4 linked regions of the Homo sapiens genome follow. Each later gene encodes a partner of the first gene's protein in a complex. Each region holds a gene or a part of one and is shown in the gene's direction. Other genes may lie near its edges.

Region 1 (7,460 bases):
TAGTCTGCTTTTTTTTTTTTTTTTGAGGTTAGACTATCCTTTATCCTAAAATGAGACAAGAACAATACAAGGCTGATCTCAGCTAAGAACATAAATGCAAAAATTTCTAGAAAGTGGTAATTAAATCCAATATTAATTTTTGAAGTATCTTGACAAAATTGAGTGTATCCCAGGAATGCAAGCACAATTTGACATTAAAATGCCTGATAATGCAATTCTCTACACTAATAGATGAAAGAATAAAAATAATATTTAATTATCTCAAAAGATGTAGAAAAAAGCTTGTGATAATGTGATTCAACATTTATTCTTGATGAAAAACTCTTTAGCCAACTAGGAACACTTAACCAAAAGAATGAGATTTTTGTGTTATGATTTAAAATAAATTTGCTAGATTCATTTATTTTGCTTACATAAGAACTTTTGCAAGTAATGGTGTTTTGCAATGATACTTTTTAATATTTTTGGAACTTAAGAAGTTGTATGATTCTTATGAATTAGTTCAGTATTAAAGATCAAAGAGGACGTGCCCAGCTAGCTCTGTTGGCAGACCATGAGACTTTTAAAATATCAGGGAGGTAATAATCAGACGGTTAATTAGCAAAAGAGTGGTGAACAAGTCCTTCCTCTCATGGCAGCTGACCATTTCAAGTAGATAATCTCTTACGGTAAACATTCATATTTTTCTTCACTTAATAAACCTTGCAACATTTACTATGTGCCAGGACTGTCCTAAGTGCTTCACAATTATTAACTTAACAAATTTCCTAACAACTCTCTCTGGAATAGTTACTATTATTAAACCTCAGTTTCCTACAGAGAAGGAAACTGAAACCTAGAAAGGTTAAGAAAGTTGACCGAGATCCCTCAGTTGTAAGACAGAGCATTCAACTTCTTTCTCTCTCCTCTCCTTCTGGTACTGTACTGGATATGGTGGACCTCATCAATTTCTCCCTGTATCTTTTACCTACTCTTTCCTATTTTCAATATCTCTGTGCCACATTTCAATTTTTTAAACCTATCTTTTGCATCTCTTCAGCTCTCTCATCTACAGTTTAGCACATTCTTTGACTTTTATCTAAATTTGTGACTGTATTATTTATTTCTAAAAGTTCTATCTGGTTACTTTTTGAATTTGTCTGATCTTTTTGATAGTGTCTCACTCTTCTTTCATATTTTCAAATCCTCCTTGTATCTTCTTGAATATTTGGTCATTGTTATTTTTCCACTCTCCATCTGATTATTGTATTGCAAGAAACTCTTGAGTATCTAATAGTGTCCTCTGGTTTGTCTGTGGACTCTTGAGTGTTTCTCTTCTGTTGTCTAATTTTGGGTTGTGAGCTCATCTTCCTCTGTGTTTATTTGTGGACATCCTGAATTGTCCAATTGAAGGTGTGTTCCTCCAGAAAAGTTTTGTAATAACTTCTGCCTGGCACCCCACGGGGATACAGTAGACAGAGGCCACTTTTTAAAAGTTATCACTTAGGGGCCTCCTAAAATATATAAGGAGCATAAATAAGACAAACTGCATGGTGCAAACCAATGGTTGTAAATTCTTCATATTTTTCTCACCACATGCAGAATACAAGCCAAGACAGACAAGTTTTCTTATTGTCTTCTTTTACCAGCACGAGATAGTAGATTGTCCCCTTCAATTGGAAAATACATTATTTCATACAGTTGTTCTTGTATTACTCCTTTGGTAAATTATACTTTTCCATTTTCATGGTTCTCTCTTTTTATAACTACAAGCATTAAATTTCCTAGCCTGAGATCCTTTAATGTTTTTTGTAATGCTTTTCTGTAAGGGCAATATGCTAGCTTTGTCATTGGAGGATCCAGAAATGTCAGTATGTAGGGTCTGTGCTTTATAATCATTCAGTTTTTCCAGAAAATAATTTTCTACTTTCTCCAGTTTTGTGCAGGTAGAGGTAGGATGGGGGAGCCAATGGCATGTTCTTGATTGTCTAAGTTCTTGAGAAAGGTTCAGAAAGGGCCCTGCAACATCTTCATTTCATATACAGTTTTCAATCCTGAGACACACTCACTTGCTGCAGTACCTGGGAACTTGAGACCAGAGAGTCTCTGGTTTAACTTCCCTAGAAAAGAAACCGCCAGTCTCCTTTGGGCAGCAGCAGATGAGGCAGATGTGGAGGACGGAAATTATGCCTGAGGAATGGGCATTTTTCAGGCTGCCAAGAAAAAGGATCCTGAGGATCAATCCCTTAATATACAGACTTTCAAATCTTCCTGCATTTTTAGCCCCGTATCTCTCCCCACCTTCCTTAGTCTATGGTTGTATTAGTTTCCTGATGCTGTTGTAACAAAGTACCACACACTGAGTGGCTTAAACAGCAGAAATTTTCTAACAATTCAGGAGACTAGAAATTTGAAATCAAGGTGTGGCAGGGTTGATTCTTTGTGAAGCTTCAAGAGACAGTCTGTTCCAGGCCTCTCTCCTGGCTGCTGATAGCCTTGAGTGTTCCCTGGCTTGGAGATGGTGCTCTCCCCATGTCTTCACGTTGCCTTTCTTCTATTTTGTCTGTCTCTGAATCCAAATTTCCCCTTTTGTAAGGACGCAATCATCTTGGATTAGATCTCACTCTAATGACTTCATTTTAATGTGATTACCTCTGTAAATACCCTATCTCCAAATAAGGTCCCATTCTGAGATACTGAGGTTAGGACTTCAGCATCTTTGGGGATGAGAGAGAACACAATTCAGCTATAACACTGCTGCCCCAAATCCTGGCACAGTAAATCAGCTCATTTCCTCATATTCATGCCTACGTGCACACCCCATCATACACAGACACACACACACATACATACACGTACAGAGACACAAACACAAATACATTGACACATACACATGCATGCAGGCTGTGTCAAAAAATGTACTCTGGATTTGTTTTAATTAGGTATGGTAAGACACACAGACACAAACATGATTGGCACAAAAGAAGAAGTTTATACTTAACAGATCCCTAGAAACAAGAAGCATGGTGTCTTGGTTCGTTTTCTGTTGTTGTAACAGAATACACAGACTGGGCAATTTATAATGAACAGAAATTTATTTTTCACAGTTCTGGTGGCTGGGAAGTCCAAGATCAAGGGGCTGGCATCCTGCAAGGGTCTTCTTGCTGCACCATCCTATGGTGCAAGGCAAGAAAACATGAGAGCAAGAAAGAGAAAGAGAGAAAACGAGGCCAAATTCATTCTTTTATAAGGAATCCACTCCTGCAATAATGGCATTAATGCATTTATGAGGGCAGAGCCCTACAGCCTAATTGCCTCTCATTAGGTGCCACCTCCCGACACCATTGTGTTAGGGATTAAGTTTCCAATACATGCTTTTGGGAAGACACATTCAAATCATAGAACATGGCATGCCACACAGGACCACATAGGGAAGAACCAATGTTGGTCAGAAGGCAGAACGGAGACAGCAGAGTACAGCACAGAGCCTTTACTAGGGTTTTCCCAGGAAGGAATAGGTGAAGCAGGGTAGGGTGCTGCATAAATTTAGGAGTGGATAGCTTGAATAATCGTGGTGTTCTCTGGGCTATAGTGGTCTGGTATCTGGACCTGGGGTGACTTAGGACAGGAGGAATATTGGCTTAGTGTGTGAGAGTTTGATAATGGAGATGGTTGTGTGGGCTCTGGATTGGTTGGCTTGTATATCAAAGGAGACTTTGCATATTTCAGGGGAATCATTTGCTATCTCTAGAAATTAGCTAACATAGGAGAATCAGTTTCTCCAGGATCAAGGCTCCAAATGCCAGAGCATCAAGAATACAGAAAATAAGAAGATACAGTCAATACACATACACACAAACATACACACACCATACACACAGACACAAATACACACAAACACATGTGCACATACACACTAGTCTATTGGAGTGTGTTTCCTTGGCTCCATTCATTCTATTACTCTTCCAGCTACTTTGCCTCCTACCTCTCCCTCTTTTTTTTTTTCCAACTTTTTTGAGCCATAACATTTATATCCGTTTTCAGGAATTGCAGTGGGATTCAGAGAATAGGCAAAGATTAAACTTGTGCGTTCAACCTTCCACTTTTAACTGGAAAACACTCAAGTGCAACATTTGTTGGTACTCTGCAGCACCTCCACAGAGCTTTTGCTGCTGCCACGTTAGACAGCTTCACCATGTAATGACGACCTTTTAAGATTCTAAATCCCCCCACCTCTGAGCCTGTTCTTCATTGGAAATGCAAGACGACCGGATGACATGAGGGAGGGGCAGCTCTTAAGGCTTGACCTAATTTCCAGTGCTGCTCATGTTGATTTCTCTCCGTCCTTCTACTGCAGGCTGTGCGTCTCTGCTTACCCAGCATGCTTGTACTCCACTACTGGAAGTAGCCTGTCACTTTAAAGGAAAAAAAAAAAAGCTACCGAGTGACCTTCCTTAGGAACGGGTTGCTAAGCTGGTGTTTTTGCTCCAAGACATGGCTGCAGCTTCCCAGGGAGGAGCCCAGGGGCATCTCCAACACTCAGCCTTTCCCTCCGGACCCTTTTAAAAGATTCAACAGCACCGTCTCTCTCCACTTCCATCCTAGAATGCAGAATCTGCAAAGTGCCTTTTGTAAAGTTTCTTAAGGTAAATCAGTCCCTAACCGGACTTTAGGCTGCAACAGTGATTTCCTGTTTTCAGTTACCCGGCTTGAAGTTCAGCCTCTCCAGGATACCGTGAGACTGGATTTAATGAATTGTAAATTTAGGGGCTCTCATCGTTATTTATGTTTTTACTTTCTGAAATGGGAACATAGACCATTACTTGGCAGCTTTGATTTGAGCTGCTATCTGGTATCTGGTTTGCAGGAAATGTAAGTCCAGTTCATCACAAGTCCTGAGTGAAAATGCTCTCTGACCAAAGCTCTGTGAAACATTAGCTGCGTGTTGCATTTATGGGCCTTTTAGTTCAAACTGGCTTAAGGGGAGAAGCACTAATTACTGCAAAATACACTTTTCTTGGTATGAGACAGAGAAAGGGCTACTAACCACAGTGCTAAGAGTTGCTGTGCTTTCCAAAGACTTCAAGAAAATGTACTGGCTACAACTTAAGCTGATTGTTTGTTTCCCTTCATTGCAAAGAGGTGGTATGAAAAGCTAATAAAGTCAAATAAGAAATATGTTTGCTACTGCATTTTCATATAACCTTTTCTGCAAATAAATTCAGCACCAGCATGAAATCTCTCTCTCTCTCTCTCTCTCTCTCTCTCTCTCTCTCTCTATATATATATATATATATATATATATATATATATATATATATATCCTAGAGCTCACTTATAGAGTCATTCATTCAAACATTTATGGAGCATCAACAATGCACCAGGCAATGAATTTAAGTTTAGAGTGTGCAAACATAAATTAGACTAGGTCAGAAGCTCAGAATTTGCTGGGAAAACAGACCTATAAACACATGATAAGAGTACAATGAGCTAAGTGCCATAAGAGATTTATAAAAACACTGAGAGGACAGTGGGATGACATCCAGGGAGGGGCTTCCAGTACTTAGCACATCATGTAAATGCACTGGTCATATATCACGTAACACAGCTCAAATATGGTACTCATGTGTACTCTTCAAGGCCAGTGTACATTATATCGAGCTGATTAAATGATTCTATAAAGCTATTGGTCACTAACCTTATGCTAAGGGAAACTGCAGCTGGAATAACTTGTAGAATAAGATAATGTATTCCAAAACAATGTATGTGGCACCTCCCCAGGTGTCCAAGCTCCAGGAGGGAACAGAAAAATGTTCTCAGGGTGTGAGGAAGAAAATACTCATGGGTAGAAGTGCAGGAGGTTTCAGAAGCACCATAAATGGAAACAGCAAGGCAACTGCCCTGGGCCTGGCTGAAGGGAGGGAGACATGAAACATGAGTTATGGTAGCTGGGGGTTGAAGATTGGAGCTGAAGGTGGGTGGGCTTGAACATCACCTAAGGTCTTTCTCATGACTCCTCTTCTATCCCCCAAGCTCTTTTCCCTCCTCATTCCTTTTTTCCACTTTCCCTCCCCACAATCACTTTTTCTTAGTAACAAAACCTACCAATATTGAGAGCCCAGCCTGTGCTAGGCATTTTACTACACACATTTCATCATTTAGCCCTTATAAATTAATCATCCTTCAAGGTAGGAAGTATGATTGCAATGTTGCAGACAAAAAAAAAAAAAACGTGTCTCAGAGAAGGGAGGGCATTGTTCCAAGATCACACAGCTAATAAATAAAGCTGAAGTTGGAACTCAGGTCCACATATTCCTTGGCAAAGAAATATGTGGACCACTCTTCCTATAAACCCATGTTTTTGCCATCCTGGAGTAGGGCATATATATTGTATGATTTTTTAAGCAACCAATATGGAGTTGAGATGCGTTGTATCTCAACCTCCAGGTATGGCTCTGACCCACTGATGACTCTTAGGAATAGTCCATTTATTCAGATGAAGGTGTCAGTACTTTCCTTGAAAAAATATATCTGGTTTTCTGCACTGAGTAAAATAAATCATTGGCTTAATGTAGCCTAAGCCTTTTCTCACCAGTGCAATGCTTCACAGCTTTCAACTGTAAATATTTCCAGAATAGCCCACTATTCTGGAAAGCACAGAATAATTATTGATGCCATTGCAAAAGCAAGAATAAATGGTGAGATGGAGGGGTAGAGTGGAGTGAGGGAGGACTCAGGAATCACAGAGTCTTGGGATCAAGTTCTGAATGTGACATTTAATAATTATAACTTTGGAAAAATCATGTAAATTGTCAGAGCCTCAGTTTACTCATACGCAAATTGGGGCACATACTACTAAGCCAGACATGTTATTGTGAGGACTAAAGAGAACATGTCTATAGTTAGCACAAAATAAGTGTGCAGTAAATCATAGCTATTTTGATGTTGCCAGTAGGAATATATTAACAAGTACCAGTGCATAAGATGATGGCAAACTGCATATTAAAACCAGGCAGTATTGATTTATCTTTTCTTAGCAACAGTGTTCATATAAAAAATAAATTTCGGTGTCATTTGATTTCCTTAGAAACTCATTTAAAGGAAATGATCAGGAAAGAATGAGGAAAAAAGAAAATCCCATTACATTTTTCATTTTCTACTTCTATTTTTTTCTTCCATATAAAGCATTTATTAACTTATAGAGAACTTTTTTTAGTTACTAAAATGTTTCACAGGTTTTTTTTTTTTTTCAGTTTGCAATGACCAGAGTTGTTCATTAGAGAGCTCTCATGTACTTTTGCATTTCATCTTTATTATCTGCCCCCTCATTCACTCTAGGTTATCTCCTTGCCTCTCTATTTTCTTAGCTGCTTTTACATTTTCCTTCCTCTATTTTTTGTACCCTGTGATGAGGTTTGTAGAGAAGACAATAGAATTTCAGATGCTTTATTTCCCTTTAACATGCTAATTCCCCTGTAGGG
Region 2 (7,920 bases), on another chromosome or scaffold:
AACACCAACCTGACCATGTCCCTCCCTGTAGCTGCAAGGCCTGGCTTCATCTGGCCCCTGTTTACCTAACGAACCTCACACTGAACTTTTCTTCCCCTTCCATCACTAGGTTTCTGAAATGCTGCCTTCCTTACTGTTCAACAAACACACTTGGCTTGTTCTCACCATCTTTGCACTTGCTATGTCCTCTGTCTGGAATGCTCTTTCCCTAGATGTTCATGTAGCTGACTCTTTCACTTCCTTCTATTCAGAGACCTTGGAAAACCTTGCAAAAGCAGGTCCTGGATTTTCCTCACTTTTGGCCTATGACAACTTCTTTCATCTGTGAACAGTTATATTTGATGAATCTCTCACTGGGGGAGCTCACCTCTGAAGGTCTAGGTCGAAAATGCATGTAAGTTGCAGACAGAGGGAAGAAAAGCATGGAGAGTTCGTCAGTCTTTTTTTTTTTTTTTTTTTTTTTTTGAGACAGGTCTCACTCCTGGCACTCAGGCTGCAGTGCAGTGGTGTGATCATGGCTCACTGCAGCCTCCACTTCCTGGGTGCAGGTGAACCTCCCACCTCAGCCTCCCAAGCAGCTGGAACTACAGGTGTGCACCACTATGTTTGGCTAATTTTTTGTATTGTTTTGTAGAGACGGGGTTTTGCCATGTCGCCCAGGCTGAACCTTCAGTCTTTTTATCTTGTCTCCTAAGAACGTTTGAATGCTTGCTATGCTGTAATTTCTGCATTGGAGAATACAGGAAGCTCATCTCTCATTGTAAATTAGGTGTCATTACTATCACTCATTTTAGGAATCAAATGCAATGGGGGTCATTTCAAAGGAGAAAACTTAATGGGTTTCCTTGTCCATCCTGAGAGCAGGGAGGTTTGAAACTATCTTCAGAACTTTGAAGGGGTCCAACAGTTAAGAAAAGAACTGGCCGGGCGTGGCGGCTCACGCCTGTAATCCCAGCGCTTTGGGAGGCCGAGGCGGGTGGATCACCTGAAGTCAGGAGTCAGAAGTTCGAGAACAGCCGGGCCAACATGGTGAAACCCCGTCTCTACTAAAAATACAAAAATTAGCTGGGCATGGTCGCGGGTACCTGTAATCTCAGCTACTAGGGAGGCTGAGGCAGGAGCATCACCCCAACCCACAAGGCGGCAGTTGCAGTGAGCCGAGATTATGCCATTGCACTCCAGCCTGGGCGACAAAGGTGAAAACTCTGTCTCAAAAAAAAAAAAAAAAAAAAAAAAGGGAGGGGGGTGCCGGGTACGGTGGCTCACGCCTGTAATCCCAACACTTTGGGTGCCGGGAGACTGAGGCGGGCAGATCACGAGGTCAAGAGATGGAGACCATCCTGGCCAACACGGTGAAACGCGGTCTCTATTAAAAATACAAAAATTAGCTGGGCATGGTGGCGTGCGTCTGTAGTCCCAGCTATTCCGGAGGCTGAGACAGCAGGATCACCTGAGCCAGGGAGGTCGAGGGTCACTGTAGTCATGATCATACCCCTGCACTCCATCCTGAGTGACAGAGCAAGACCCTGCCTAAAAAAAACAAAGAGAGACTTTGTTGAACCTCCTTTAAAAAAATAATAATAATAATAATAGTAACTCCTCAGTAAAGTTTAGAAAATCACAAGCTTTTATTTCATGGGGATAAAAGCAAGTTTTGGTGATTACATTGTCTCCAATATGAAGAAAAGGCTGTGCTGTCTTTTAAAGAGATGGTTTATATGAAAATGTCATTACATAGTTTCAATATATAGGAGTTCAACATTTTAGGGACCCTCAATCCTATAAATCATTCCATTTTTTTTCCAATTTCTTGTCTTAATAATACAATATAAGACTCCGAAAACATTAATGTTTATTGTTTAAAACTTTTTTTTTAAGACGGAATCTCATTCTGTCACCCAGAGTGGAGTGCAGTGGTGTGATCTCAGCTCACTGCAATCTCCACCTCGTGGGTTCAAGAGATTCTCCTGCCTCAGCCTCCCGAGTAGCTGGGACTACAGGAGCGTGCCACGATGCCTGGCTAATTTTTGTATTTTTAGTAGAGACGGGGTTTCTCCATGTTGGCCAGGCTGGCCTTGAACTCCTGACCTCAGATGATCCACCCGCCTCGGCTTCCCAAAGTGCTGGGATTACAGGCGTGAGCCACCGCGCCCGGCCTAAAACTTTATTAAAAAGATATCTATGTATGTATATATGTGTGTGTGTGTGTATATATATATATATATATATATATTTTTTTTTTTTTTTTTTTTGAGTTGGAGTCTTGCTCTGTTGTCCAGGCTGGAGTGCAGTGGCGCAATCTCGGCTCATTGTAACATCCGCCTCCCGGGTTCAAGCGATTCTCCTGCCCCAGCCTCCCGAGTAGCTGGGAATACAGGTGTGTGCCACCATGCCCGGCTAATTTTTTTTTTTTTTTTTTTTTTTGTATTTTTAAATAGAGACGGGGTTTCATCATGTTTGTCAGGCTGGTCTCAAACTCCTGACCTCAGGGGATCCGCCCGCTTCGGCCTCCCAAAGTTCTGGGATTACAAGCGTAAGCCACCATTCCCGGCCTTTATTATTGTTTTAACAGAGAGAGGTGTCTCACTATGTTGCTCAGACTGGCTTCAAAGTCTTGGGTTCAAGGAATACTTCGCCTTGGCCTCCCAAAGTGCTGGGATTACAGGCATGGGCTTTTGCTTCTGGTCCCAGAGTGCATTTTCTTTTTATTTCTTTTCTTTTTTTTTGAGACGAAGTCTTGGTCTGTTTCCCAGGCGGGAGTGCAGTGGCACGATCTTGGATCACTGCAACCTCTGCCTCCCGGGTTCAAGCACTTCTCCTCCCTCAGCCTCTGGAATAGCTGGGATTAGAGGCGGGCGCCACCACACCTGGCTAACTTTTTAACTTTTTTTTTTTTTTTTTTTTCAGTAGAGATGAGGTTTCACCATGTTGGCCAGGCCGGTCTGAAACTCCTGACCTCAGGTGATCTCCCTGCCTCGGTCTCCCAAAGTGCTGGGATTACATGCCTGAGCCACCGCTCCCGGCCAATTTTTGGCCAAAGTTTCTAAAATAAAGTTTAAGGTTAAATGTCCGGCTGGGCGCGGTGGCTCATGCCTGTAATCCCAGCACTTTGCAAGGCCGAGGCTGGCGGATCACGAGGGCAGGAGATCGAGACCATCCTGGCTAACACAGTGAAACTCCGTCTCTCCTAAAAACACAAAAAATTAGCCGGGCATGGTGGCGAGCGCCTGTAGTCCCAGCTACTCAGGAGGCTGAGACGGGAGAATGGCGTGAACCCGGGAGGCCGAGCTTGCAGTGAGCCGAAATTGCGCCACTGCACTCCAGCCTGGGAGACAGAGCGAGACTCCGTCTCAGAAAAAGTAAATAAATAAAATAAAACAAAATAAATGCTCTATTTTAATAGAATTATAAATGCCCTATTTTTATAGAATTATAATTCTAGCGTTTCTTTTTTTTTTGGAGACGGAGTTGCGCTCTTGTTGCAGAGGCTGGAGTGCAATGGCGCGATCTCGGCTCACTGCAACCTCCACCTCCTGGGTTCAAGCGATTCCCATGCCTCAGCCTCCCGAATAGCTGGGATTACAGGCACGCGCCACCACGCCCGGCTAATTTTGTATTTTTAGTGGAGACAGGGTTTCAGCATGTTGGTCAGTCTGGTCTCGAGCTCCTGACCTCAGGTGATCCGCCCTCCTAGGCCTCCTAAAGCGCTGGGATTACAGGTGTGAGCCACAGTGCACAGCCCGCTTTTCCCTGTTTGTAGCGCCTATTATCTTACGGATTTATTTGTTTGCATGTCTGTTGTTGATCTCCCTGACTAGAATACCCTTACTAGGTAATCAATAAACATATACAAATATTTGTTGAAGGAATGAGAAATGCCTCTTGGGCTTGTAGTTTAGGCTGGCTAAAAGCACTGAGATGGGGAGTGGGGAGTAGGAAGAGATTGTTCTCCTGGGAGATGGGCCGGGAGGTTCCTTGAGGATGGGACTTGACTCAGCAATTAAAGAACTTTCAGATCTGCAGGGACCTGCGCTGAGGCCCAAAGGTCATGAGGTCGCCGATGATAAGAGCTTCTTGGACTGTAGCTGGGCAATGTCGGAGGCCCAGCACCTCCAAGGGACAAAGAAATCTGAGTTGAGTTTCCCTTCCAGCCGGCTCCAAGCCTCCCAGAGACGCAGGGACTGTCCCATTCCCTTCGTCCACTCCCACTCTTTCCAGCCACCTTGCTCTGCTCTTATCCCCATGCTAGTTTAAGGACGCTGGCCATTTTTTGCACTCTGCAAATCCCTCACCAAACTGAGCAAAGTAGTCTGAAAGAAATCAGTCTTCCTCAAGGAAGGTTCAGGCCTGGGGTCCTCAGACAACCAGGGGCTCCGTGACAATCTGTGACTGCAGAGCAGTCCAGGAACACCGGCCTCTCCAGGTTCGGGTCCCTTGTTTCTCAGGCCCAGCTTGGTGGGAAGCTAAAGGCATGCAGAGGAGGGGAAGGGGAGCGGGTCTGAGTCTTCGGCATGGCGGGGAACTCAGCCCGGCGTGGTGGTGGCAGCGGTCTCAAGTGATCCACAACTGGGCAGCGTAGCTGGGGCTGGGGGCCGCTCCCGGCGTGGGCAACAGCAGAAGCATTGGTGTCCCCAAGCTAGGCCAGGGTGGGTTTCCGTTCATCCGCCCTGCGTGGGCAGATCGGGCGCTGCGGGGCTGTGCCACCTCGCACCCTCTGAGGAACAAAGGGCCTGGCTGCGCGCGGGTACCCAGCCGTTAGGTTAGAAGCGCCTTCGGGTACCCCTGACCTTCGCTGGCCCTGAGAGACCCGCAGCAGCCGGAGAATGTACTGCTCGCGAGGATTTCCGAGAACGCGGCGCCGAGCCCGCGTACACGGTTACCAAGGCAACTGGGCGGTGCCTGAGCGGGCGGGAAGGAGGCGTTCGTCTAGATTTGTCGGCTTGCGGGGAGACTTCAGGAGTCGCTGTCTCTGAACTTCCAGCCTCAGAGACCGCCGCCCTTGTCCCCGAGGGCCATGGGCCGGGTCTCAGGGCTTGTGCCCTCTCGCTTCCTGACGCTCCTGGCGCATCTGGTGGTCGTCATCACCTTATTCTGGTCCCGGGTAAGACCCACGGCTGCACTCAATCCGTCCCCATTCCCATCTCTGAGTGGTCCTAGTCCTACCCTGCCCCCTCCCAGTGTCTTACCCTCTTGGGTTTTCTTGTTTCCCGCCGCCCCCAGGCCTGCCCTGCAGCCTGCCCCTTTTTCACTTCTCTTCCTGTGCCCTGCTCCCAGGACAGCAACATACAGGCCTGCCTGCCTCTCACGTTCACCCCCGAGGAGTATGACAAGCAGGACATTCAGTGAGCTCTTGGGACGGGGTGGCCAGAACGAAGAGGTGGTGGGAGTGGAGGGGTCTTAGAATAAGTCCAAAGGCCTGGGCCAGTCCACTTCCTCTCTGCAGGCTGGTGGCCGCGCTCTCTGTCACCCTGGGCCTCTTTGCAGTGGAGCTGGCCGGTTTCCTCTCAGGAGTCTCCATGTTCAACAGCACCCAGAGCCTCATCTGTATCCTTTCTGCCTGCCCACCTTTCCCACACGACCCACTTCTATCAGGACTCCCTTCAGCCACCTGACACAATAGTGTCTGCTGTAGCCAATCCTTCCAGTTCAAAGATCTTCAACGATGTGCTAAATCCTGCTGTTTACTAGGCACTTAAAATCCCAAAATGAGAGTAAAATACAGTTTTTGGCCAGGCATGTTGGCTCACGTCTGTAATCCCAGCACTGTGGGAGGCGCAGGCAGGAGGCAACATAGTGAGAACCCAAGTCTACAAAAATAATAGGAATAATAAAAACCCCACCGTTTCTTTTTACAATGAGGAGGAGGTAGATACAAATCTGTAATTCAGTGTGATAAGCACTGTGCTATAGAAGTGTGTGAAGATAGAAAGCACAGGCAGGGCGCGATGGCTCACGCATGTAATCCCAGCACTTTGGGAGGCCGAGGCAGGTGGACCACCTGAGGTCAGGAGTTCGAGACCGGCCTGACCAACATGGTGAAACCCCCGTCTCTACTAAAAATACAAAAATTAGTCGGGCGTGGCGGCGCACTCCTGTAATCCCAGCTACTCAGGAGACTGAGGAAGGAGAATTGCTTGAACCCGGGAGGCAGAGGTTGCAGTGAGCTGAGATCGTGCCACTGCACTCCAGCCAGGGCAACAGAGCAAGACTCTGTCAAAAAACAAACAAAAGATATAAAGCACAATGGGAACTCAGAAGAGGCAACGGAAGCGAGCACTGGGAACTCAGAAGAGGCAAAGGAGATGAGGCACATGGGTCAGAGAATTGTGGACCAGGAGGACCAGGACACTGGAGGCTGATTCCAGCGCATATTAAGTCGCTGTCAGCACTCCTTTGTGGCATAGCAGAAGGAGAGCCTACTCTTACCTCTCATCTGAAGGATCCAGGCTGGCCCACAGATAAGGGGTAGGGTAGCCTGAGGTCCGATCTGTGCAGTCACTTCTGGTCTCTCCTCACATGACTGTCCTAAAATTCAGAAGTCAGAGCTGCTGACTCTAGCCCTTGAAACATGGTGAGGGAGCAAGGGATGAACCTGAATGCAGATGCCAGCCCCACCACTGGCCTTTTCTGACCCATCACTGTCTGTCGATCCAAAGACTTTCCTTAATCTCGTGCCTTCCCAAGCCATTGGGGCTCACTGTAGTGCATCCGTGGCCCTGTCCTTCTTCATATTCGAGCGTTGGGAGTGCACTACGTATTGGTACATTTTTGTCTTCTGCAGGTGTGGTAGCATCCAATATTTGGGGATGAGGGAGGAAGGTTGGCCCTAAACCTGAAGGTTTTTCCCCTACCCAGCCCTTTCCTCCATGTGTGAGATACCAGATCCACTCAACATCCTGTAGGCTTTTAAAGTTTCATCCCCTACCCCCCATGCCACCTGCCCTACACTTTCAGAGGTGGGGTCTCTGGTTTGGAGATTTGGGTATTTATACTGAAAGGGTTTCTGAATCTACCACTTGCCTTGGTAGTGCCCTTCCAGCTGTCACTGAAATGGCTTTATTCGTCACCGTCTTTGGGCTGAAAAAGAAACCCTTCTGATTACCTTCATGACGGGAACCTAAGGACGAAGCCTACAGGGGCAAGGGCCGCTTCGTATTCCTGGAAGAAGGAAGGCATAGGCTTCGGTTTTCCCCTCGGAAACTGCTTCTGCTGGAGGATATGTGTTGGAATAATTACGTCTTGAGTCTGGGATTATCCGCATTGTATTTAGTGCTTTGTAATAAAATATGTTTTGTAGTAACATTAAGACTTATATACAGTTTTAGGGGACAATTGAGATGGCTGAACTACTGAATAAAAAAAAAACAACGCTGTTTTCTAGTCCTGCAGACCGTAAGATACTTGGTATCGCTTCTATTTTGGTTACTACGGTAGGTGCCTGGCGGAAGGGAGTGGGCGGAGATATGTAAATAGAAAGTGCGTACAGTTAGAACGTCCGGCACGTAACTGATCGGAGCATTCTGGGAAGAAGTAATTTATTCCTTTTCGGCAGCCGAATGAAAAAAAAATTTAAAAAAATGTGCGAGCTAATATGGCAAAACAACTGGAAGGACGCTAAATAATAGGATTGCTCATACCAGCGCGTTATGAACTCACCCTAGCTTGTAACGGAATCTTTTTCACTGAGTGCAGAATGTCGGCTGTTTGTCTGTATCGTCAGGTGGGATAATCCTTACCTGTTCCTCCTCCGGAGGGCAGATTAGAACATGATGATTGGAGATGCATGAAACGTGATTAACGTCTCTGCGTAATCAGGACTTGCAACACCCTGATTGCTCCTGTCTGATTCTTTCTGACGATCACTTACATTTGTGTTATGCTGATTAGCAGATATCCACAAACATAGCTATGAAGTTCTGA
Region 3 (6,912 bases), on another chromosome or scaffold:
ACATCAATAATGGCAGGACTCATTCCAAACCACATTTTTTTTCCTCTCAAATTATCTTCTCTAATGTTTTTGCATCATCATTGCCTCTTCCTCTCAATTTATTTTTAACAAGATTTTTTTCTAACTAGAAAATGTACGCTCATATAGGAAATTTGAATAATAAAATTAGAAGGAAAAATACCCATAATTCTATCACTTTTTTTCCTCCAGGATTTTGATAACATAATTACAATCTGAAGAAGGTATCTTGCATCTTTTTTCAATGCCAGGGGAAAATATCTTTAAAATAATTCACTTAGGTTTTTGATAAGAATTCACATAGGTTTTTGGTTAACATAATGGAGTGCTTTAATGCTTAACTGCCTCCACTGTCTTTATTAGGAAAGCAACAGAGGTATTACCTAGCAGGTCCAGTTGAATTTACAAAATTAAATACCAGCATTATTTGACTCCACTCTAGGTGTTGTTTCTTCATAAACTTCATTTTAATTGATGTGTAAATGGTAGCTATCATGTATAGAGAGCCTTAATGATATAATATCACATCAACCACAACAGTAAGATATCATTATTTTTACTTTACAAAACGAGTATCTGAAATCAGTCACACAGCTGTTAAGTGGTACATCGAGAATTTTAGGGTATTTGAACCCTGCCCTCTCAGCTTCCAAGGACATTCTTTCTACTGCAGCCCAACACCTTGCCATAAATATCGTAATCTGCTTAATGAGGCCCTGTGGTTGGGCACTTCAAATGCCCATTCCCCTCTTTTCTAAACAATTATCAATAATGTTGGAGAAGCATTTGGTGTATAAAACTTTGTTTCTATGATTATTTTCCTTTAATAGAGCACGCCTTAAGATTTTATCGTGTTAAAGGAGGCAGGAACGTTTTAAAGGCTATTTCTATACATTGCCGATTACTTGTCTCAATGCGGTTGGCCAAATTATAATTCAACAGCTGAGCCTGAGGCCTCCTGCTTCACTGTTCCGTTTATAAAAAATCTCGGTTCATTTGATAAATGAAAAGTGATTCTCTGTTGCTAAGGTTTTTTAAATTGTTATGATTCACTATGTTTTAATACACCAATTCACCATTTTACAAAGTGAACCTTTTAAAGGGCTAGCTAAGTCCTTGAACTAGAAGGGGAAGACAAGAGAGTGGTCATTAGGCTTTTTCTTCCTTTTACTCACTCAACAGTCATCCAGCTCCTACTCATGGCCAGGTACCACACTGTGCTAGTGTTGGGGATATAAAGATGAAAGTCCATTCTTGACCTCTAAGAGCTTGAGGACTAGCAAGAGACACAGACACATAAACAGACAATTTTAGTATAGAGTGACCAGCACTGTGACCAAAGAAACAAGAGGAAGATGCTTTGGGAAACACAGAAGAGAGCACCTAAGCTATTTCAGGAAGGTCCTAGAAGCCTTTTTGGAGATTCTCAGGTCTGAACTCCATCTTGAAATGAAGCAGAAGTTAACCAGCTTTTCCCTGACATCCTCAACCCGAATTAATTGCTTCTTTAATAATTAAAAGACGTGGTCCTTTAATAGAGCACGTCTAATAACAGTGTTTGCACTTACTTGTTTCCATGTCTCTCTTTCACTGAGCTGTGCTTCTTGATGAGGAGGGACCATATCCCTAATTAGCCTAGCACGATATCCAAATAAGCAGTAGGAATGCAATAAACGTTTGTGTAATTATTTTAAAATTCTAGTCATGAACTTATTTCCACCCATATCTTCTTCTTGCATTTATATAAATGTGTAATTTTCCTTTTGATTGTAAAAATAATACTTTTACCACACACCCATCAGAAGGGCTAAAAGGAAAGGATAAGAAATAACAAGTGTTGGTGAAGTATATGGAGTAATGGAAATATTCACACATTGCTGGAGGCAGCAGAAATTGGTTTGATCACTTTGGAAAACTGTAGGCAGCCTCTACTAAAGCTGGGTCTTTCGTATCCTATGACACGGCAATTCCACTCTCGATATACACTCAACAAAAATGCATGCATATGTTCACCAAGAGGCATCTTTTCCCCAAAGCAGCACTATACACAACAGCTCCAAACTAGAAAATACAGACACTCATCAACAGTAGAATGAGTAAGCTTATTGTGGTATGATCACAAAGAGCAAGGCAAAAGAATCTACACTCAATGACATGAAGGAATTTCATGAAAGTAATGTTGAAGACAAAGCCAGTTTTTTAAAAAAGTACTTACAGTATGATTGCTTTTATATAAATATGCAAAACAGAAGCAAGATGACAAAGGGAGTGTCATCATCTAGAAAGTGGTGCGATAAGATGCACAGCTAGTGCTGCCCTGTGACTCTAACTCCTTCAAAAGTCCGCCTGTGGCAAACGCGGCTACCCTCCCAAGCCAAGATAAAGTATAATTGGAGTGCCGAGGCTAAAAAATATACCAGTGGGACTGGTCGAATGAGGCACTTAAAAATTGTGTACAGCAGGTTAAGGCATGGATTTTTTAAAGGAATGCCACCTAAACCCAAGAGGACAGCTGCTGCAGCATCCAGTTCATCTTAAGAATTTCAGGCCAGGTACGGTGGCTCACACCTGTAATCCCAGCACTTTGGGAGGCCAAGGCGGGTGGATCACTTGAGGTCAGGAGTTCGAGACCAGCCTGGCCAACATGGCGAAACCCTGTCTCTACTAAAAATACAATAATTAGCCGAGTGTGGTGGCGGGCACCTGTAATCCCAGCCACTCGGTAGGCTGAGGCAGGAGAATCACTTGAACCCAGGAGGCGGAGGTTGCAGTGAGCCGAGATTGTGCCATTGCACTCCAGCCTGGGTGACAGAGCAAGATTCTGTCTAAAAAAAAAAAAAAAAAAAAAAATTTTAGATTAGTCACACAATAAATGTTCTGATTTAAAAAAAAAAAGGCAAAACTCTCCTTTGCTGTTAGAATTCAGGAAAGGTCAGTTATGAGTGAGGAGTGGGTTTAGTGACTGAAAGGAAATAGGAAGGGGGAGTTTCTGGGAATATTGTAAAGTTTCTTGAACAGGGTGCTGATTACACATACAGATTTCAGTCTATGTATATATATTACACTTATTTCTTAAGTAATATATATTACTTACAAAAGGTGTACAATTTTTCTGTATGTGTATTACACTTAGTTTTTTTTAAGTAATATATCTTGAGAGAAAGCTAGAAAATAAGACGTTTAAAAATTTTTGAATCACCTACAATCCCACTATCCAGTGAAAACGACTGTTAACATTTTGGACTTTTTTCCAGTTCTTTTTTTCAAGCCAGTGTGCACACGCTCTCTCCTCCCCTCCACTCATACACATAAATTTTGCTAAATTAGGTTCATTCTCATTTAGTTTTATTTCTGCTGTATTTTTACATAAAGTTAAACTATACCATTCAATATCCTTTGCAAGCATTTTATAAGCAGCTGAAACATACTCCATTGAATGTATGTGCTCCAGTACATTTAATCAGTTGCCCATTGCTGTTTTCTTATTAAAAAATAATCAGTCACATGATGTCTCTCTCTCTCACACACACCCCTACACCTCTAGACATTCTTTAAGCTCTGCATTCGTTCTCTATTTCTCTCCAGAAAGGTTGTACCGATTTACAGTTCCACTGGCAAATGTGAGGGCTCCTTGTATCGCAGTCCAACCCCAGCTCATTTCTTAGTATAGGTTTGTTTTTAGGATGGTCGAGCTCAAAGCAGAACTAAGGGATCTGCCGTTTTGTACACGGCCGAGGCGCGCGGCTCCCTGGGCCTGGAACGCGCTCTGAGCGCGCCGGTCCCTTCCAGGTTGCGCGGGCTCCGGACGAGACCCAGCCCAGCCGGGCAGCCCCGCGCGCTCCCGGGTCCCGCCGGCCTCGCGCCGCCCGGTTGCCGTGGGAACCACGGAGCCTCGGAGCGCCCGCAGACTAGCCCGTGTCTGAGGGGGTGAGGGATACTGAGGCCCAGGCATGGAGCTGCCGGATCCGGTGCGCCAGCGGCTGGGAAACTTCAGCCGGGCCGTGTTCAGTGATTCCAATCGGACCGGTCCAGAGTCCAATGAGGGTCCGGGTGAGTGACCGAGGCCCGGTGCAGGGGGTGTGGCCTGCCGAGGGCTTGGCGTGGATTTTGGAGCGTCCAGAATTTGCCCGTACCTAAAATGGCGATGTCGCCTTCAGCCAGTTCTCCGCAGTGCGGGAGAGCGCCTTGGAGGAGGGGCCGGGCCGGACAGGGAGCTGAGGCGCTGGCGGCCTCCCGCCCCCGGCCGGGCCTGGTCTCCGCGTGGTGCTCCCTGGCCAGCTTGTTGCAAGCGCGGCAGCTGACGTGGGGCCGATCTCTGTGCCGCGCAAGGCCCATCATTGTCCCGGAGAAACCCCAAAAATAAAAAGATAAAAGCCGCCCTTGCTGCACAGGCTGGTCCCCCGCGCGCCGCGAGAGCGAAGGCCCAAGTTGTTTTGCCTCTGCGGCGCCCGCCCCGGCTTTTCTGTCCAGGATGACGAGGAATAGCCCAAGCAATCCCACCTCCCCCGTCCCCACCCCCACCCCAGGGAACAAATTTGCCTTTTCCCTTTTCCTAGCAGAACAAGTATGTTCCTAAGCAAGGCCATTTTCTCGTAGAAGACATTAAAAAAAAAAGTTAATGAGTCCTTTCAAACCACCATCCACTCCCACTGGCATGTGCCATACTAGCCGGGCGTTCAACAAAACTCACCCCTTCCCTGCCTTCTCCTCCTCCCCTATATGTAACTCTTATCATAAGGTAACAAAATACCATGATGCTTCTGCGTCCTTTAACTTGATGTCAAGTGATAACACAGTTTCCTCCAGAACAGTTTCCTCCTCCTACATCATGATGGTAGACAACACACTGTCAACCAAACCCATGTGGTTTTCATCATTCAACTCTGCTGGGAAATATCAATCTTTTCCTCTGCTTGGTTTTAGAGAATTTTTAAAAGGGACAGAGAAAAGTAAAGGCAGTTCCCAAAGCTGCATTTTGTCACCTTGATCACTTGCCTATTTCCCAAATGTAGGCCTTTATGATTTAGGATGTACAGAGAAAAATGTGAAAAAAATAGGTTTTCACGTTTCTGGTTCCAAGGATGAGGCTTAATGAGCACTAACGTCTGATAATACAAGGTAAAAAGACGTTTTCTGAAAAGGACCAGATAGTAAATATTTTAGACTTTGTAGGCCATATGGTCTCCACGGCAGCCATTGACAATAGTTATTGAATAGGCAGGGCTGTGTTCCAATAAAACTTTATGGACACTGAAATTTGTATTTCATATGGATTTCACGTGTGGAAAAAATATTACTTTTTTAACCATTTAAACGTGAAAAAACATTTTTAGCTCATTGACTGTACAAAAACAGGCAGCTGGCCAGTTGTTTACCTATCCCTGATTTATATTGTATGTTTTAATTTAAATTCCATTTACAGAACTCAACTTGAACTTTTGCAAAATTTAGTAAGTTTATGTCTTACGCTTTTAAGGTTCATTTACATATTAATTTGATTTTCATTTCCATGATTATAAGTTTGATCTGCTGAAATATGGACATAGCATAACCTTTAAGATGTTAACACACAATACTTCTAACATGAAAACCATTCTTTGCAAAATTTGACTACAGTTTCTTCTCAAAGGTACTGAAATGTTCAGCTTGCCCAATTTATTATTCTTTCCCAAATTTTCTTCTTTGTGGATTGGAAGTAGGTTTGATTATTTGTACTGTAATAACAAGTTTATGTCATTACCATGTCCGCAGCTTTGTACTGTTGCTATCGAAAAGATCCTAGGCTGGTGAGTTGTCTTCAGATTTAACAGATTTTAAGAATTCATTCCTTTATCAGTGGTAATTTAATAAACAGTTGCAAGCAAAAGTAGATCATAATAATCAGGCATATTCTTGGAGCTAAAAGAAACTATTTTGCTGTGAGAGACCATGACTATTTCTTATATTTTAAAATAATTAAGTGACAGATAAAAACACTCAGCTATGGAGAAAAGGAGAAAATAATGTTTTTAAGACATTTATTTTAGAGCCTTTAAAATCTTACGTGTACAGCAACTGATTTCAATATATGTGTCTGCTCTTAAGAATTTAGTCAAATTTAGGATGTATTTTGTAGGGCTCAATTTTAAAAATCAAATTCTTAATCTAGGACCCTGCTCTCTTACATAAAAGCAGAAAGTGTTATGGAATCAACCTTAGGTAAATGGAACTCATGTATCACAAATGGCTATGCTAGTAATGTCCTTATGACAGTATACTTTCATTAATTCATTCTTATGTGTATTTGATATTCACTGCGTGGAAAGCAAGATGCTAGATTCTATGAGGGTCTCAAATTAGGGTAGGACATGGTGTGTGCTTGCAATGAGCCTGTAGATAAGTAGAAGAGAAGAAGGAAAGAGGACTAATATTTGTTGAGTGCCTACTAAGTGTGCCAGGCACAGTGCTAGGATGAAATAATTTATATTGGCTCTAATTCTCACAAACAGCCTGTGAGGAAGTTTTAATTTCACTATTTTACAGATGAAGAAATAGAAGCTCAAAGAGTTTAAATAATTCATGTCAAGTCTGACATCCAGGGTCACAGAGGTTTGGGGAGCTCGGATTTGCTTGAACTCTGAAGCCCATGATCTGTTCAGTACACCAGACTGTTTTTTGGGGAGGGGAGTGTGGTTCTTTGCTAGCACTTCTTATTGACAGTTTAGAGTGGTAAGTACCTAAAGGGGAAAGGTATTTCTGCTGAGGTGGGGGAACTGATGAAGGAAGTATTGATGGAAAAGATGACACTGAATTGGACTTTAAAGAATGGCTAAGATTAGGGTATGCTGAAAAGAGAGATGTGTCTAATTATAACCTTGGTAATCCGTTTTTGTATAAGATTAGTTTATCTGTGGG
Region 4 (7,024 bases), on another chromosome or scaffold:
AGAGACAAAGAGAAATCACTGAATTAAAAGTAAAAGAATTTGAAAATATCAAATTACAGTAAGTCTTCGAAATGTATTGTAAAAATAGGCAAATGATAAGTGATATAATGAAGATAAACATAAGTGTTTGCTATGCCAGGCACTGTTCTAAGACTTTTAAGTATATTGTCTCATTTTTATCCTCAGGACTGCTGGTTACATATGTTATCATTTTCCCCATTTTAAAGAGAGGATATGGCCTCAGGAATGCTTAATAGCATGTCTGGGGGTAGATGGGAAAGCCATAATTTGAAACTAGTCAGTCTGACTCAAAAGCCAATACAAATTCTTTTCCAGAATCTCATTTTTACCTTCTTTGAGCCTCAGTTTCATCTTATTTATTTATTTTTATTTTTGAGACAAGGTCTGGCTCTATTTCCTAGGCTGGAGTGCAGTGACATAATCTCAGCTCACTGCAACCTTGACCTTCCAGGCTCAAACCATCTTCCCACCTCAGCCTGCAGAGTAGCTGGCACTACAGGCAGGTGCCACCACACCTGGGTAGTTTTTTTGTATTTTTGTAGAGACAAGGTTTCTCCATGTTGCCCAGGCTGGTCTTGAACTCGTGAGCTCAAGTGATCCGCCCACTTCGGCCTCCCAAAGTGCTGGGATTACAGGCCTGAGCCATTGCACCCAGCCTCATCATCTTTAAAATGGAAATAATAATACTTACCCTGGCCCTTTCAGGGTGGTTATATGAAGGTCAAATTATACCGTGTATGAAAGTAATTTGAAAACTGTAAAATAACATACAGATAGAAAACTTTTGATTACACACTTATAAGAGTGTCTGTCATATAATAGAGATTCTAAACATTGTTCAACCACTTTATCAGAACGTAGATTTTAAACTCAAAATAGGTTTATAGTTAGGTAGTTTCTAATCATTATAATATTATCTCTATGGGCCTAAATTTTATTATCTGAAAAAACATGAGAAAATTGAACTGCTTGACTTATAATTCCATTTCAGCTCTCAAGCCCCTGCTAGAGTCTTTGATTCTTTACTCACTTATTCAAATGCCTCTGACAGAATTAACACTATTTTTGCTTTGCTAAGGAGCTGCCACTGTTAAGAAATTACTCTCTAAAAGAAAGAAAATTGGCAACAGCATATGTGTATTTTCAGTCTCTTTTCCTCACTCTATTAAATTTTGTACAAGAGATGTTATTTTTGGTCTAGTAAATTTCTGTCATGTTTTGGAGTATAAAATTACTTGTGCTTTTGCATCTAATTTGTGGGTGTAGAAAATCATAATCTTTTGAAATACCTTATATAATACATTTTTTTGCCACAGGAAATACTTGAAGTTATTGTTGTGTACCTTACGTCATTTTAGTCCAAAATTATACTTGTGTTCTCTGTGTGCATATTTTGATATGTATTAGGAGATTATGGATCTGTGTGATTTCTTAAGTAAATCCTGATATTTTCACAATTTGATGATGACTCTTTAAAGTTAGACTTAAGTTTTGCCAAAAGCAAGAAGCCTCAAAGAGTAACATTTGTTCATGTCTTAACACTATCTCCCTCTTATTGGTCAGAATCTCAGTATGGATGCAGTGTCCATATGCACAACAATATATTAATTCAGTTTAACAGACTTAATGCTGAATAAGCAATAAGATTAATTGAATTAACTAAATCTTTTGATAGTATCCACTTCCATATATATAGTTATAGATATAATGCTAGTGAATTTGAACCATAAACAAATTAATAATACATGTGATTTCTGTGAAAATTTATATTAGTCTTTTCAATATGTCAATATAGGGCAGTATTTCTCAAATATAGAGGATCAGTTTTTCACCATTGTCCCTCTTGGGGACATTTGGCGATGTCTGGAGACATTTTTGATTGTCATGGCTCGGGGGTGCTACTGGTATCCAGTGGGTAGAATCAAAAGATGCTGCTAAACATCCTATCATGCACAAGGCAGCCCCACCACCAACAAAGAATTATCCAGTCAAAAATGTTACTAGTAGTATGGTTAGGAAACTATCATATAGAGGAAGCAATCACATTTTACAAGAGCCATAATATTTAAAATGCCTTTTTGTTCATTCTCTGTATATTTGACTAGAGTCACAAAATAACTTGATAAGATTGTTGCCAAAAATATTAGAAACTAGAAGAAAAATGTGTTGTTAAGTCTAAGAGTAGTTAAATGAAATAAAGAATTATTCTTCTTTGGATTTGGATGCCTGCATCAAGATTTAGATTGTAAGGATACTTAGGACTGAACATTTGCTCTATATGAAATTTGTATTAATCAAGGTATGAATTGCAGCAACCACTCTATTAATTACATATGTTTGGCCAGGTGTGGTGGCTCACACCTGTAATCCCAGCAATTTGGGATGCCAAAGCGGGCTTATCACCTGAGGTCATGCGTTCAAACTGGCCTGGCCAACATGGTGAAACCCCATCTCTACTAAAAATACAAAAATTAGCTGGGCCTGATGGTGCACGCCCGTAGTCCCAGCTACTCAGGAAGTTGAGGCAAAAAAATCACTTGAATCTGGGAGGCAGAGGTTGCAGTCAGCCGAGATTGCGCTGCTGCACTCCAGCCTGGGTGACAGAGTGAGACTGGGTCTCAAAAAAATTAAAAATTAAAAAACACACACACACATATGTTTATTTACATCAGGCTTCAAGAAAACCATGAAGATGAAGTGAAAAAAGTAAAAGCGGAAGTAGAGGATTTAAAGTATCTTCTGGACCAGTCACAAAAGGAGTCACAGTGTTTAAAATCTGAACTTCAGGCTCAAAAAGAAGCAAATTCAAGAGCTCCAACAACTACAATGAGAAATCTAGTAGAACGGCTAAAGAGCCAATTAGCCTTGAAGGAGAAACAACAGAAAGTAAGTAACAACAGAAAATTATCAACATTTAGGAAAAATATGTGGTAGATTGCTTTTAGAGAAGATTTGTAAATTTATAAAAGATGGTAGTATAAATCTCCGTGTTGTAATAAAAAGTATGAGCTTTATCTTATGCTGTTAAACAAGGTATTTTAGACAATGCTGTTTTTGTGGGCAGATATAGTCCAATTTATCTTTTTATGTTTTCGTCAATCTGATTTGTGAATTATCTATATGAAGTTAGGAAAAATCTTAATGTACATTACAAAAATATAATATATATTACATTGTATTTTCTTTTTTTCTACTGGAATTTTATGCTACTGAGGCTATTTTTAACAAATGAACAATTTTGAACAATTTGAGGGATTGAGGGAAGTATGATAATGACAAAAAGGGATGAAAAAAGGGGGTCATAGAGATGTTTTTGTGAGAAGGAGTTGGTCAGTGTATTCTGATTTATTAGGGTTTTTTTTAGTTTATCTCAGATTTGATCTATTTAAATTGTTTTAGAAGATGCTGGTGTTTTTCTGTGCTAGCTATGAAATTTATGGGTAAACTTTAAGCCTTTCCTAGTCCTTTTGTTGTCTACCTAAATTCAATTAATTTCATATGGAAGGATGTAGTAAGTGAGTAATATAAATATCTAAAATTGGATGTTTGAAAACAAAACATACCTGTTTTTTGTAATAGCTTGATTTAATGCTGAGTTCTCAAAATCATTATTAAGATTTTGAACTTTCACATTCAATGTGGAAAGAATTGAGTGTAATTACAAAAGATTTATTTGAAAAAGTTGAGTTGTTAATTTGTGAAATATGTTCCATTAAACTCATAATATTTTAGAAAAATAGTAGGAAGTAATAAAGCTTGTTTATTTTTTATATCATATATTCATATAAAATGTCAGTTTTCCTTTAAAAATTACATTTTTTTTTTGGTTAATTTTTAGGCACTTAGTCGGGCACTTTTAGAACTCCGGGCAGAAATGACAGCAGCTGCTGAAGAACGTATTATTTCTGCAACTTCTCAAAAAGAGGCCCATCTCAATGTTCAACAAATCGTTGATCGACATACTAGAGAGCTAAAGGTGAACATCAACACGTGTTAATGTAACAAAATTTCTGATAATTCCTATTGGAAGAGAATTCACTATGATATATAGTAATTTTGTTGATGAATAGGGAATTTATAATGCACTGTTGGTGGCTAGACATAGACACACACATGCATTTTTCAACAATAAGTCTCTTTATGATACTCATTTACTGATTATCATCTTGGGGATTAGGAAAGGATAGGCCATTATGAACTACTGTTTCTAATGAAATTAAATTTAAGAAATATTTTACTTAGGATTTTTTTTAAGACTTTATTATTTTTTTAGAGCAATTTTAGGTTCACAGCAAAATTGAGAGGAAGGTACAGAGATTTCCTGTATATCTCCTACCCTGAAAGTGGTACATTTGTTAAAATTGATGAACCTATATTGATACATCATAATCACCCAAAGTCCAAGTTTACCTCTATTTTAGCTCTTGGTATTTTACACTCTGTGTGTTTAGACAAATGTATAATGATATGTATCCATCATTATAGTATTATACAGGGTATTTTCACTGCCCTAAAAATCTTCTGTGCCTCTCTTCTTCATTCCTTCCTCTGCACCTCACCAAACCCCTGGCAACCAGTGATCTTTTTACTGTCTCCATAGTTTCACCTTTTCCAGAATATGTTATAGATGGAAACATACAGTGTGTCCCCATCATTCTCACCATAGGACAGCTAGGAACTCCTTTCTAGTGGCATACATATTGTCTAGTATTGTAAGTTACCCTTTTATATCTTATCTTTGTAAACTAGGTTAGAAATTACTTCAAGTCAGAGATTTGTTCTGTACTACTCTTATGCTTCATAGTGTTTAAAACGTTGTCATATATATTGTTATATACTTGTTTGTTTAATTAATTCAGCCAAAATGAAACGTGCATATTTGATAAAATTTTGTTTGTGGGTGTTTGTTGAAGATGAATTGCTTTACACTAGTTTTTTTTTTTTTTCTCAAAGTCGACTTTTTTCCTCAAGGTAGACTTGACATGAATATGGAAAAATATATGTAGTTTGTGGTTATTTTTTTTCTCTTGTGTACTTAAAAATTCAGACTGAATTTTTCTTATAATGGTATATTTTCTGTTTTATGTTCCTTTTATCATTGATACTTCTTGAAGAGTCATGAATAATACCTTTCTTTTTCTCTTATTAGACACAAGTTGAAGATTTAAATGAAAATCTTTTAAAATTGAAAGAAGCACTTAAAACAAGTAAAAACAGAGAAAACTCACTAACTGATAATTTGAATGACTTAAATAATGAACTGCAAAAGAAACAAAAAGCCTATAATAAAATACTTAGAGAGAAAGAGGAAATTGATCAAGAGAATGATGAACTGAAAAGGCAAATTAAAAGACTAACCAGTGGATTACAGGTAATTTTATATTTAACTCTGATAATGTCTGATTTACAATATAGAGGTAGTAGTTTATTTCTACTTTATCATTTTATCTATGGTATTTGTTAAAACTGACTTTCAAATCACTTTGATTAATGTAATTAATTTCTTTTGTGACTTCTATTGTGTTTATAGTTCTAGAGTAGCATATTAGTATGTTGTATTAAAATGCAGAAGCAGCTACCAGATTATCTTATGTATTAAGTGTCATTTAGAAAGTATGGTCAGTGATAGCTTCAGAAAGTTGCTATTATATAATTGAAATATTTACTGTCTATTTTGTTTTACATTTATTTGTAAAAATATAAAGTTACATTTTATTTTTTAGGGCAAACCCCTGACAGATAATAAACAAAGTCTAATTGAAGAACTCCAAAGGAAAGTTAAAAAACTAGAGAACCAATTAGAGGGAAAGGTGGAGGAAGTAGACCTAAAACCTATGAAAGAAAAGGTATGTGAAGAAACATACTGACTTATATGCTTAAGGTAGTGACAGAGTAAGTTAAATACATAGCTGATTAACAGTTAATATACTGCCTTAATTTGATGACCTGGCTGTATTAATTCTGTATTAATTTTGAGGACTATAAGCAGTATTGAATAACGTAGAAAAGTCTAAGTTTCTGTTCTGTAGGAATTTAGAGTCTACTTGAGGAGATACCTATAATGTAACTCTTATTTGGAAATTACTACATCAATTTCATTCATCTTTCTGACATTAGAGTACCTCTGAAGTTCCTTCACACCTTAACATATTCAACTGTGTATCATTTCTCTCCAAAGTAATCATTTACACAGGTTGGTGCTTTTGACTTTTGGGACAGAAAGATAGACATTTTAAGATACCCCACTTTGACCCAAATAGGTCCTTTTTAATCCTTCAGGAGACTAGGCTGTTATTTCAGATAGCAAAGTTATTTGGAATATCTTCAGTATTTGCAGTAATAATCAGTAACCAATCTGCTCATAGATTAATTCTGTGGGAGAAATTGCTTAAAATTTTATAGTTCATAGTAAACTGTTTTGTAATAAAAATTACTGATTGAAATAACCCCAAAAAAAACTAAAATTGGCTAAAATGCGTGTAATTAAATTTGTTATGGACAATAAATTGGAGATAACTTGTTGGTAACATTCAAAATATCGAAAGTGAACTGGGAAATGTTGATGTTAGCAGTAATATTTGCCATTGAAGAAAATCAGTATGGAGGAGCTATGGTTAGGAAAATTTTTATTATAAAATTTACCCAGAAAATATTTAATGTCTATAAAATAATTTCAATCACATGAAAATGGAAAAGAAAATTCTGTCTTTAAAGGCATTGAATAGAAAATAGGTAATGGAATTCAAATTTCTTAATAGAGTATGCTCCCAAAATTATTTTCTATGAAAATTCATTAATGTCAGTGTAATTTATTGACACTATTTGCGTGGAGTCACAACATGCTTGCTGTCAGAAGCTTTGCTGGTGAAAACTGTAAGATCAAAGTGTCCTTAATCTTTTGGATTTCCATCTTTCTAACTCCCTAATTGGGGATAGGCCTGATCTTATCCCTAAATGGGGATAGGTTAGAAACTGGTATGTTTGTTCCTAACTGGTGTGTTTC

The links.
Region 2: CC2D2A (region 1) and TMEM107 share a complex: the UniProt entries of both Homo sapiens proteins name them as parts of the tectonic-like complex.
Region 3: CC2D2A (region 1) and TMEM17 share a complex: the UniProt entries of both Homo sapiens proteins name them as parts of the tectonic-like complex.
Region 4: CC2D2A (region 1) and CEP290 share a complex: the UniProt entries of both Homo sapiens proteins name them as parts of the tectonic-like complex.

What each region holds. Positions count from the first base shown.
Region 1 is NC_000004.12:15,465,433-15,472,892, forward strand, and holds the start of CC2D2A (coiled-coil and C2 domain-containing protein 2A), read left to right. Parts: upstream 1-4,449; 5' UTR 4,450-4,625; intron 4,626-7,460. UniProt on the Homo sapiens protein: Component of the tectonic-like complex, a complex localized at the transition zone of primary cilia and acting as a barrier that prevents diffusion of transmembrane proteins between the cilia and plasma membranes.
Region 2 is NC_000017.11:8,173,381-8,181,300, reverse strand, and holds the start of TMEM107 (transmembrane protein 107), read left to right. Parts: upstream 1-4,920; 5' UTR 4,921-5,014; coding exon 5,015-5,101; intron 5,102-5,274; coding exon 5,275-5,342; intron 5,343-5,425; coding exon of another isoform or gene 5,426-5,443; coding exon 5,444-5,544; intron 5,545-6,426; exon of another isoform or gene 6,427-6,525; intron 6,526-6,684; coding exon 6,685-6,781; intron 6,782-7,028; coding exon 7,029-7,098; 3' UTR 7,099-7,920. UniProt on the Homo sapiens protein: Plays a role in cilia formation and embryonic patterning. Requires for normal Sonic hedgehog (Shh) signaling in the neural tube and acts in combination with GLI2 and GLI3 to pattern ventral and intermediate neuronal cell types.
Region 3 is NC_000002.12:62,503,186-62,510,097, reverse strand, and holds the start of TMEM17 (transmembrane protein 17), read left to right. Parts: upstream 1-3,902; 5' UTR 3,903-3,968; coding exon 3,969-4,068; intron 4,069-6,912. UniProt on the Homo sapiens protein: Transmembrane component of the tectonic-like complex, a complex localized at the transition zone of primary cilia and acting as a barrier that prevents diffusion of transmembrane proteins between the cilia and plasma membranes.
Region 4 is NC_000012.12:88,076,065-88,083,088, reverse strand, and holds part of CEP290 (centrosomal protein of 290 kDa), read left to right. Parts: coding exon 1-58; intron 59-712; exon of another isoform or gene 713-776; intron 777-2,693; coding exon 2,694-2,907; intron 2,908-3,859; coding exon 3,860-3,997; intron 3,998-5,170; coding exon 5,171-5,392; intron 5,393-5,744; coding exon 5,745-5,867; intron 5,868-7,024. UniProt on the Homo sapiens protein: Involved in early and late steps in cilia formation. Its association with CCP110 is required for inhibition of primary cilia formation by CCP110.